3 linked regions of the Homo sapiens genome follow. The protein of the gene in region 2 interacts with the protein of the main gene of each other region in a biochemical or structural test. Each region holds a gene or a part of one and is shown on either strand. Other genes may lie near its edges.

Evidence for each region.
Region 1: the proteins of BCAP31 (region 2) and ITGAM form a complex in vitro, tested with the Homo sapiens proteins (one study listed by BioGRID).
Region 3: the proteins of BCAP31 (region 2) and BCL2 form a complex in vitro, tested with the Homo sapiens proteins (one study listed by BioGRID).

What each region holds. Positions count from the first base shown.
Region 1 is NC_000016.10:31,262,688-31,266,475, forward strand, and holds part of ITGAM (integrin alpha-M isoform 2 precursor), read left to right. Parts: intron 1-2,707; coding exon 2,708-2,811; intron 2,812-3,094; coding exon of another isoform or gene 3,095-3,123; coding exon 3,124-3,194; intron 3,195-3,342; coding exon 3,343-3,460; intron 3,461-3,788.
Region 2 is NC_000023.11:153,717,728-153,721,515, forward strand, and holds part of BCAP31 (B-cell receptor-associated protein 31), read right to left. Parts: intron 3,246-3,788; coding exon 3,145-3,245; intron 1-3,144. UniProt on the Homo sapiens protein: Functions as a chaperone protein. Is one of the most abundant endoplasmic reticulum (ER) proteins.
Region 3 is NC_000018.10:63,131,269-63,135,056, reverse strand, and holds part of BCL2 (apoptosis regulator Bcl-2), read left to right. Parts: intron 1-3,788. UniProt on the Homo sapiens protein: Suppresses apoptosis in a variety of cell systems including factor-dependent lymphohematopoietic and neural cells. Regulates cell death by controlling the mitochondrial membrane permeability. Appears to function in a feedback loop system with caspases.

The DNA of each region.
Region 1 (3,788 bases), on a different chromosome or scaffold from region 2:
AACCACTGTGCCTGGCTATGGCCACTTTTGAGCTGTAATGGCAGAATTCAGGAGCTGTGATAGAGATTGTATGGACCCTGAAGCCTAAAACATTTACCTTTACAGAAACAGTAATTGTGGAGGTGATAGTACCTTTCCAGAAGAAGGGGGCTGGTCTCTGCTCTTTGCTTTATCTCCCATAATACAGCCCAGTGATTTGAGTCCATTAATCCCATGTTATGCTTGCATTGCATGCCATAATTGGGAGATGCTATAATTTATTTTATTTTATTTTTTTAGAGACTCCCTCTGTCGCCCAGGCTGGAGTGCAGTGGCATGATCTTGGCTCACTGCGACTTCTGCCTCCTGGGTTCAATCGATTCTCCTGCCTCAGCCTCCTGAGTAGCTTGGATTGCAGGTGCCTGCCACCACGCCTGGCTAATTTTTGTATTTTTGTAGAGACAGGGTTTCACCATGTTGGCCAGGTTGGTCTTGAACTCCTGAGCTCAGGTGATCCACCTGCCTCGGCCTCCCAAAGTGCTGGGATTACAGGCTTGAGCCACCGTGCCTGGCTTGTAATCTCCTTTTACATTACATTAGATCTCTTGTTAATGAACATTTAGATTGTTCCCAAACTTTTGCTCTATGAACAATGCTGTCATTTTGCACATGTGCAAGCCTATTTGGAAGTAAAGGCTAGGACTGGGATTGTGGTATCCACGGGTGCATGAGCACGTGCAATTTTAATAGATTTTTCCAGATCCCCCTCTACAGTGGTGGCAGCAATTTACACTCACACCAGAAATTCATGAAAATACCTACTTCCTCATACTCCCTCACTCATTTGCCAACTCAGTGTGCTATCAAACTTACTGATCTCTGCAGATCGAGTAGGTGAGAAGTGGTATCTTAATTTAGCTTTAAATTGCTTCTTTTTTTTTTATGAGAGAGGCATTTTCTGTGAACATGTTTTTCTTATCTGTTGGCCATTTTTCTTTCTTTTTTTTTTTTTTTACTAGTTTGTACAAGCTTTGAGTACACTGAGGAAAGTAGTCTGGGGTATGAGTTGTGAAGCTCTCTCCCTTGTGTATTATTTTTCTTTTGAGTATGCTTATGGTAGTTTATCACATACAAAAATTTATTTATTTATTTATTTATTTATTTATTTATTTATTTATTTATTTATTGAGATGGAGTCTCGCTTTGTCGTCCAGGCTGGAGTGCAGTGGAGTGATCTCGGCTCACTGCAACCTCTGCCTCCTGGGTTCAAGCGATTCTCCTGCCTCAGCCTCCCGAGTAGCTGGGACTACAGGTGCGTGCCACCACGCCTGGCTAATTTTTTTGTATTTTTAGTAGAGATGGGGTTTCACCATGTTAGCCAGGATGTTCTCGATTTCCTGACCTCGTGATCCACTTGCCTCGGCCTCCCAAAGTGCAGGGATTACAGGTGTGAGCCACTGCGCCTGGCCCAGAAATTTATTGAAAATGACTGTGTGGAGGCTGGGTGCAGGGGCTCACGCCTGTAATCCCAGCATTTTGGGAGGCCGAGCTGGGCTGGTCGCTGGAAGCCAGGAGTTCGAGACTACCCTGGCCAACATAAGGAAACCTCATCTCTACTAAAAATACACAAATTAGCCAAGCATGGTGGCACACACCTGTAATCCCAGCTACTCAGGAGGTTGAGACAGGAGGAATGCTTGAACCTGGGAGGCAGAGGTTGCAGCAGTGAGCCGAGATTGCACCACTATACTCCAGCCTGGGTGATGGAGTGAGAATCTGTTTCAAAGAAAGAAAATAAATAAAAATAAAAATAAATAAAATGACTGTGTGGGCCGGGTCCAGTGGCTCATGCCTGTAATTCTAACACTTTGGGAGACTGAGGTGGAAGGATTGTTTGAGCCCAGGAGGCAGAGGTTGCAGTGAGCTATGATTATGCCACTGGACTCCATCTTGGGCAACAGGGTGAGACCCTGTCTCAAAGAAAAAAAAAAAATGGTTGGCCTGGGACTACAGGTGTGTACCACCATACCTGGCTAATTTTTAAAAACATTTTTTGTAGAGATGGGGTCTGGCTATGTTACCCGGGCTAGTTTCAAACTCCTGGCCTCAAATGATGCTCCTGCCTCAACCTCCCAAGGTGCTGGGATTAAAGGCATGAGCCATGGTGCCCAGCTTGAATTGACCTATTTTTATTTTTAAAATTTATTCATTTATTTTTTGGGACAGAGTCTTGCCCTGTCTCTCAGGCTGGAGTGCAGTGGTGCTATCTCGGCTCACTGCAACCTCTGCCTCCTGGGTTCAAGCAATTCTCTTGCCTCAGCCTCCCATTTAGCTGGGATTACAGGTACGCACCACCACGTGTGGCTAATTTTTTGTATTTTTAGTAGAGGCGGGGTTTCACCATGTTGCCCAGGCTGATCTTGAACTCCTGAGCTCAGGCAATCCACCCCCTTGGCCTCCCAAAGTGCTAGGATTACAAGCATGAGCCACCGCGCCTGGTCCTATTTTTAAATGACTTCTGGTTTTTGTGTCATTCTTAGGAAGACCTTTTCTCATTCTGAGTCTTAACATTTTCCCATTTTTTTCTTTGCTAATTCTTCCTCCTAGTCATAGGAATTTAGGAATCCGGGTATGGGCCCCCACCGTCCTCTGGGTGGCAGAACTTCCTCTGTGGTCTCCTTCTCTCCCCACATGTCGAAGTTTTCTCTGTTCCCACTTCTCCCCACAGGGTGGTGGTTGGAGCCCCCCAGGAGATAGTGGCTGCCAACCAAAGGGGCAGCCTCTACCAGTGCGACTACAGCACAGGCTCATGCGAGCCCATCCGCCTGCAGGGTGAGTCACTGCCCCGCCGGGCTGGGACTGGGATTCCCCTGTGAACACATAGGGACTTTCCAGGCACTCCTGTGTCCTGGGGATCTGTGGTGGGGACACAGGTGCCTGCCTCCGTACCCTCTCCTCTGCCTGCAGTCTCTACCCTAGACATCCCCAGGCAACCCCTCTGTGTTCCTTTCTTTCCCAAGATTTAGGATCCCCCTTCACCGTCAGACCTCCTTGTCTCCCGCATGGAGGTGACCCCTGCCCAGCTCTTCCACAGCCTTCTCTGTCCCCCCACCAGGGTGACCATGCCCATATCTGTCCCCGCAGTCCCCGTGGAGGCCGTGAACATGTCCCTGGGCCTGTCCCTGGCAGCCACCACCAGCCCCCCTCAGCTGCTGGTGAGTGGGGCTCGATCAGAGGAGCATCCTAATGGGGGTGTTTGGGGGCCCACGCATGGTGGGGCTGGGGGTCTTGTGGAGGGTGGAGGTGCTGGGGTACAAGGACAGGAAGCAGGGGCAGCCCCTTCCACTGGCTCCTGTCCCCTAGGCCTGTGGTCCCACCGTGCACCAGACTTGCAGTGAGAACACGTATGTGAAAGGGCTCTGCTTCCTGTTTGGATCCAACCTACGGCAGCAGCCCCAGAAGTTCCCAGAGGCCCTCCGAGGTGGGTTGCCTTTGGCAGAGGGAACAGATGCGCAGCAAAAGACCAGGGGAGGGGGCAGGACTGAGGTGACGTCTGCTCAAGGTCTGGGCTCTGGGTGCAGAAGAGTGGGGGAACTGGGTCCCATTAGAGTCAGAAGCTAGGGAGGTGCTAGGGTCTTGTACTTTAGGAAAACGCCTTGGCTAGGCACAGTGGCTCATACCTGCAATCCCAAAGCTTTGGGAGCCCAGGAGCTTGAGATCAGCCTGGGCAATGTAGTGAGATCCTGTCTCTAAAAAAAAAAAAAAAAAAAATTAGCTGAGTGTGGTGATGAGCACCTGTAGTCTTAGCT
Region 2 (3,788 bases):
AATTTCCGGTTTTAGGCTGCTTAGTTTTTATGTTGATCTTGCATTATAAAAATCTGCCCATCCCTCAGCACCACGAAGCGAGTACTCTCAAACGCTGTTAGCAGGGGTAAAAACAGCACACCTGTATAAAATGCAAAATGTTCATACCCTCGGGTTCAACAATTCACCTCTGAAATTATCCCACAGAAGTATTTGCATAAATTTGCAATGATTCGAAGATGCTTATAAAGAATGGATTACGGCACAACCACATGAGAGAATACTACATGATCTTTAAGAAGAATGAGATTGCTATAAAAAGATGTTGGCCGGACACAGTGGCTCATGCCTGTAATTTCAGCACTTTGGGAGGCCGAGGTGGGCGGATCACTTGAGGCCAGGAGTTCAAGACCAGCCTGGCCAACACGGTGAAACCTCGTCTCTACTAAAAATACAAAAAATTAGCCGGGCATGGTGGCGGGCGCCTGTAACCTGCAGCTACTCGGAAGCTGAGGCAGGGGAAATCGCTTGAACCTGGGAGGCGGAGGTTGCAGTGAGCCAAGATGGCGCCACTGCACTGCAGTCTGGGCAACAAAGTGAGATTCCATCTCAAAAAAAAAAAAAAAAAAAAAAGATGTCTAACGTGCAGCAGGTAGAAAAAGCACAATCCAAAGTATTGGCTAGGCTCTGCTATGGACAGCAGTCTTATCTCAGAGCTGTGCTACCAGCTCAGGCGTGGAATGCTCCTCCTGCCATGTCCCAGCAGGAATGTGGAAAGAAACATAAATACTTTGTGTGTATGATCCCACCGTTGTAGACATTTTATTAAAGATGTCAGCATACAAAACCCCTCTGGAAATGCACAACAAAATACTCATGATGGTTACCTGTGGGAAATGGGATTATGGGGAGTTTAACTTTCTAAATTCAACTTTTGAATTTTTAAGAATAATTACCCATTATTTTTGTAATCAGAAAAACAAGATAAACATGTTTCCTTACACTGTCACCTGCATCCAGGAACCCCACCATCCTAAGGACCACCTTGGCCAATGACCAATAGTGGGGATGGGGGACTGAGCAATACTAACCCAAGTCCCACAGTAGAAACCAGCCCTCCCTGTCTCGGGCCTCAGCCCAGGTGGGAAGATCCTGCACCCTCAGCAACTCCATCCTCCAGGAGGATCTGCTCAACCCTCCCCACCCCCAAGCAAGGCCACAGCTCTAGCTAGTTATGCCCCTTACCCTTCACTAGTACCTGTGACTAACACTTCTGTTTGAAGAAGGCTCTGCAGATCTTTCTAGATTATGCTTCTTAACATGGGAGTAGGAAGCAGCCAGTCATCATGGCCATATGTCCCCCTAGAACTTCCAAGCAGTTCCCCGATCCCAAAAAAGAATGAAGGCTTTGTCAACTACTGGATTCCGCAAAGGATCTCTCCAGCCCACTCAGCTGCTCTAGGAAAGAAACATACTCCTTCTGGTTTGGGGAAGGGGCAAGACCCTGAGGGAATCATCCTCAGCATGGTCCCTCCCCTCCCCAGTTATTACCCCCACCCCAGACCCAAAAGCCAAAACACACATGCTCAGTTCAAAAACTCAGTGGCCTGGGGATGACACATATATTACCTACCTACTCCTGGCTTGGAGGCTGCTCAGGGCGAGAACCCTGGTTAGAAAGAGCTACTACCTCTTGGGGCCTTGCCAAGTATTTCAAGAACACTGAGGTGCTCAGGCAGCTGGCACCTACCCTATGTGGTTGGAAGCTGTCAGGTAACACTTGGCCTGTTCAGAGGCAGTCCAGCCTGAACATATCCTATCAGGCTCTGAGACATCAGGAAGGAGAAATGCCTAATGCTGAAGCTGGTGGGTGAGGCTTTGCACATTCCCCTGAACCACAGCCCCCCACCCGCTCAGTGTTTCTGCTGGGACTCGGTGGGAGGAGTGTTCCACGCCTAGGCAGGCACCACAGCTCTGAGACAAGAGTGGTGTCCACAGCAGAGCCAAGCCAATACTTTGGAGCCCAAACAGGGGGACATATCGATCACTTACCACAGCAAAACAACAAACATCTACCAGTCAGACAAGAGCTTTATTGATTCTTGTCTCCAGATGGTCACCCTACCACCTCATTGCAAAATGTCTGCCTTTCATCTTACCACCACCTGGCCTGGCCTTATCCCAGAGCCTGCTTGCCCTTGGACCAGTTTATCTTTCAAGCACCTGCTAGTGTACACCTCAATGTCAGAGTTTACAGAACTACAGAGCTGGAACGACCTGGGAAAACCTCAAGTCTAGCCCAGATGCAGAGAGGTCTAGGATCTCTCCCCAAGATATGCTGCCACACATCTCTGTGTTCTCCTCCTACTACTACAGGGAATGGCAGGACTTCACTGTGTGCTTGGTTGCTCAGTCCCCCATTAGAGGCCCTGCTCCAGGCAATTCTGCTGTTTAAGTGACTGGTGAGCAGCACTACTCAGACCAAGGTCACAGGCCAGTTAGCTTCTCTTGGCTTCAGTTCTAGAGTGACCTGAGGAGCAGCCTCAGAAACCTTAGGCGTCCCTCCTTCCAAGGTCTTGAAAAAAAGCAATGTAAGGTGGCCGTCATAAGCTGCATACAAACTGCTTGGTATAAGCCCACGCCCACTGCTAGAGGGGCCTCTTTTTTTTTTTTTTGAGATGGAGTCTCCCTCTTGTTGCCCAGGCTGGAGTGCAATGGTGCGATTTAGGCTCACTGCAACCTCTGCCTCGTGGGTTCAAGCAATTCTCCTGCCTCAGTCTCCCAAGTAGCTGGGATTACAGGTGCCCGCCACCACGCCCAGCTAATTTTGTATTTTTCGTAGAGATGGGGTTTCACCACGTTGGCCAGGCTGATCTCGAACTCCTCATCTCAGGTGATCCACCGACCTCAGCCTCCCAAAGTGCTGGGATTACAGGCATGAGCCACCATGTACGGCCTAGAGGGGCCTCAAAGTGAAGAACCGACTAGCGGTCAGCAGCATGGGCAAAGGGAGCCTCTTCCCTCCCTCAAGAGAAAGACACAGCATTTCATTGGTCTGTCTCCTAGCAGCCAAAACTGGATGCTACACATCAAAAGTGGCAAAGGGTTTTGCAGCAGAGACCAGGGTCTAGGTCAGGTAGCTGCCCTCAGCCATAGCTCACTCACCGATGACCAACAGCACAAGGATGACAATGAGAACCACAAAGAAGGTGTTGCCATAGGACACTAACAACTCCACCAGCCGGGACTTGAAAATCTTCTGCCATCTGTGAAGAAGACAAAAAGGACAGGAGTTGAAGAGAAAGCACACACACGAGCTCTAGGGCCCTGAGCAAAATGGAAATCCAGCTTTGTACTCTTCTCCAATGGCCGAATAGCCCATGCAAAGTCAGCCTCAGTGGCTTGCAATTCTCTAATTTGACATCCATTCAAGACTATTGGAAAAAAGGCCAGGTGCAATGGCTCACACCTGTAATCTCAGCACTTTGGGAGACCAAGGTGGGTGGATCACTTGAGGTCAGGAGTGCAAGACCAAACTGGCCAACATGGCGAAACCCTGTCTCTACTAAAAGTACGAAAATTAGCCAGGCGTGGTGGTGGGCACCTGTAATCCCAGCTACTCAGGAGGGTGAGGCAGGAGAATCACTTGAACCTGGGAGGCGGAAGTTGCAGTGAGCCGAGATCGCGCCACTGCACTCCAGCCTGGGTGACAGAGCGAGACCTTGTCTCAAAAAAAAAAAAAAAAAAAGATGCTGGTCCACGTATAGATCAAAATGTCTGGAAAACTAATCTTTTTTTTTTTTTTTTGA
Region 3 (3,788 bases), on a different chromosome or scaffold from region 2:
TATCTTTATTAGACATTATTAAACCAATTCAGGGAATCTGAACATACTTTGAGGTTCCTTCCAGCCCAGAGTTTTCTGTTACAGTGATTCTCCCTTTCCTTTTTTCTTCCTAACCCTAAAGTTGTCATGAGAGAAGAGATCCCCAGAGGTCCCCATGGAGACAAAATTATAAACTCATGAAAAATAGAAAATATCAAAGTCATTCGATAGCTGTGTTTGATTTCCCATTGGCATGGTCTGATTTTCTTTTTACTTTCTTCTTACTGCCGATGAGACTCTGCAGTCTGCAGGAACAAAATGGCGGCACCCATTGATTTAGTTTAGTTCAAATGTGCACATAGAGGCATTACCTCTCTCTAGAGTGTAAGCTCTTTGGGGACAGGGTGGCTTTTCTCCCTTAGAATTCCCTTCGATTGTATAACGTCTGCATGCATAGTCAGCTCAAAGACTGTGGAATGTAGCTGAATTTCGAATTTGCTTATAGCCAGCCAAGCCATATTAAATTTCCCCAGTATATAGAGAGCTGAGAACACACACTGAGCTCGGGGCCTGAACCTCTTATTGCAGGCATTGGTCTGAGGGGCAGAGCTCATGAGAGTTCTTCTGGGCCAGGGTCTAAGGAGGCCCTCACTTAACCGGGGGCCTGTTGCATGGTTCTAGGTCATGGCTGCTGCCTGGGAGCCCATGTCTCCCCACTACTAGACATCATCTCCCAGCATTTTTGTCTGTCAAATTATGGAGTCTGGATTTTTTTCAGATTAAGTAAGCACTTAGAATGTAACATTATTCTATGTAGTATATATTGAAATATATTTCATAAATAGTAATATACATGTTTGTATTGAATTAGAAAAGACAGCTAAGGAAAAAAATCAGAATAGCCTCTTAAATGCCATGTCCTCATGCCTACTTCTGCCTTCAACGATAATCACTGTTAACATCTTTGCGTTTTCCTTTATATTATTTTTTTCTGTTTGTAAACGCGCACATGTATATGTTAGGTTTTTACAGAAGTGGAATCGTGTTTTGCTGACCGTTTTGTCCTGCTTTACTCAATATGACCTTAGGAACACAATTTCTTGCCAATAACTATAGGGTATGACTTTTAATGCTGAACAGCACTCCATCATGTGGACGCGCTGTCAGTCATCTATTTTCAGACATTTGTTTCCAGGTTTATGCTATTATACATAATCTGTGCACTTTATTATTTTTCCAAAATAAATAACTGGAAGTGAAATTACTAACAAAAGCTTTTTAAAAGCCTTTTGATATGCATTACCAAATTCAAAAGGTCTCCATGTTTACCTTTACCTGGGCATAAGGGTTATTTTGGGACCCCCGCCCATATCCCCAACCGCATGCCATTCTTTTCAGCACTTAGAATTAACCTTCTCTTCCATTCTTGACAATCTGACCTTTTTTAAAAAAAATTCTCATTTTAGGTTTACGTGAAATTTCTCGAAGTGGACCAGGGGTGGTGGCTCATGCCTGTAATCCCAGCACTTTGGGAGGCCAAGGTGGGAGGATCACTTGAGGCCAGGAGTTTGAATCCAGCCTGGCCAACATGAAACCCTTTCTCTACTAAAAATACAAAAATTAGCCGGGCGTAGTAGAGGGTACCTGTAGTCCCAGTTACACGGGAGGCTGAGGCAGAAGAATTGCTTGAACCTGGGAGCCACTGCACTCCAGCCTGAGTGACAGTGGCTCCATCTCAAAAAAAAAAAAAAAAAAAAATTCTTGAAGGTTCTGAACGGAAAAGGAAAATGTTGGAGGATGGCTGCCTCCCAGGTGGGAGTGCTCCATGGCCCGGAGGGGTGAGGACACCTTTGCTGAGTTTAGGAGTCTTGACCCTGGTCTGTTCCCGTCCACACCTACCTGGCCTGGTTCCAAACCTGCAGCAAGGCTGCGGCTGGGAGTTTAGCCATCCTGTCCCCTTGGGCCAGCCCTGGGTGGAACTCAGATCCTCTGTGGCCTCTGAATTGGAAATTTATGGGGAAGCCACTGTGGACAGAGCCACCAGAGCTGAGGCCCTGCCCATCTCCTCCTCATAGGAGGAGCCGGTGCCAGCCTTTCCGTGTGAACCTGTGATCCGTGAAGTCGGGTAAGCCCTTGCCAGTCCTGACATGAGCAAGGGACACAGAGCTTCCTAAATATATAGACTGGGATTTTGTCCGAATCACATGACGACCCAGGTTTTCTTTTTCCCTCTTTGTTGCTTTTAATACATAAAATGAGCATGTGTTTATTTAAAACAGCTTTCAAACTCAAACAAATAATGACAGACTGTTCAAACAGACTTCGGAAATCGCCCCAATCAGGATGTTTGAAAAATCAGGAAGACTTTCTACGAAAGAAGCTTTCAGGTCATTTTAGTCCCGAAGCCGCAGGGTCTCCTTTGCACTTTGGAATTGTAGAAGGGCAAAGTTTAGAGGCCAGCTCCAACCTCCAGGGGGTTAAATGACTTGCCCTCTAGCCCTACACTCTAATAATGTGTAAAGAAGGACAGATAGGTAGGCATTGTATTATCACTTCCCATCTTTGACCAGAACACGGGATGTATACATTTTAATTCATAATTCCTATAGAAATTACGGACTATCCTCAGATCAGAAAGCTAAGAGAGGAAATTGCTTCTGCAAAACGGCAGGCTCAGCAGAACTTCTTGGGGGAAGGGCAGGTTGAGTAGGTGCGGAGCAGGTCTGCAAGAGGACAGACAAGAGCAAGGTGTTTGTTCTGCCACGAGCTCACTTTCTGTATCCAATTTACAAATGGCTTTGAGTGACCTACGTTAATCTTCACAATAATGAATTTTATGGCTATGGATGAAGTAAATGAGGCTCGGGGCTGGGTTATCTGCTGAAGGTTATAAACTAATAAAATATCAAAGCCAGGGTTCACCCACACTCCTCCTCCAAGTCCCATGCCCTTCTCAGCCCCCTGGGATGGCAACAGCATCTCTATGCTGAGGCTTTGGGCCAAGAGCTGCTAGTTTAGCTCATCTCACTCTAGAAATGACATTGTTCTACGTAATGCATATCAGAAATGGCCTGTTAGGTTCATGAGAAGCACTGTTATTTGTGTGGGGGTGAGGGTGGTGAGAGGGAATTATTCCAGCTCTGAGGAGGTGGGGATATTTGGGACAGCATTTCTTCTGCTCTCCAGCACTGTGTGCCAGACCAACTGGGAGAAAATGCCAGCTGGAGTATGTCCCTGCATCCTCCGGTTTCCCAGGATGGCTTCAGGTCCAGACAGGACAAATGATCAGGGGCTTAGTCTGGTTCAGATTTTGCCACACAAAACTCTGTTGATTACTAAAGGGATTCAGAGCCCGGCCACTGACCTTCTCAATGTCAAGCCAAATTGCAGACAACCTATTGCCAGTGCCCTGACAAATTTGGGGTGTCTTTTGGCTGGGCTATTGGGGGTTTCAGCCTACCCATCCCTCAGAGAGAGAAGCATGGATGGGAGGACTAGTTGACATTTGCAGCCGTGTCTGTGATGTCTTGGGTTGCTCCCTGGAAGAGGCAGAGTTCTGGCTTGTGGAGAAGTCCTGACTCCTTCCTGCCCCACTGATCCCTGCTTATATGGAGAGGGGTGTGCATCTTGGCAGACAATCATGATTGTGCCTTAGCTCTGTGCTAAGAGCACTAAACACACATTTTATGTACGTCTATTGCCTCGCTTTTCTAACACTGAAATTTAGAAATGTTTAACAATAGATATTTAAAAAGAAGAAGAAAGCCCTTGCGCCCTCTCCTGGTAAAAGTTAACCAAGGACCTCCAAA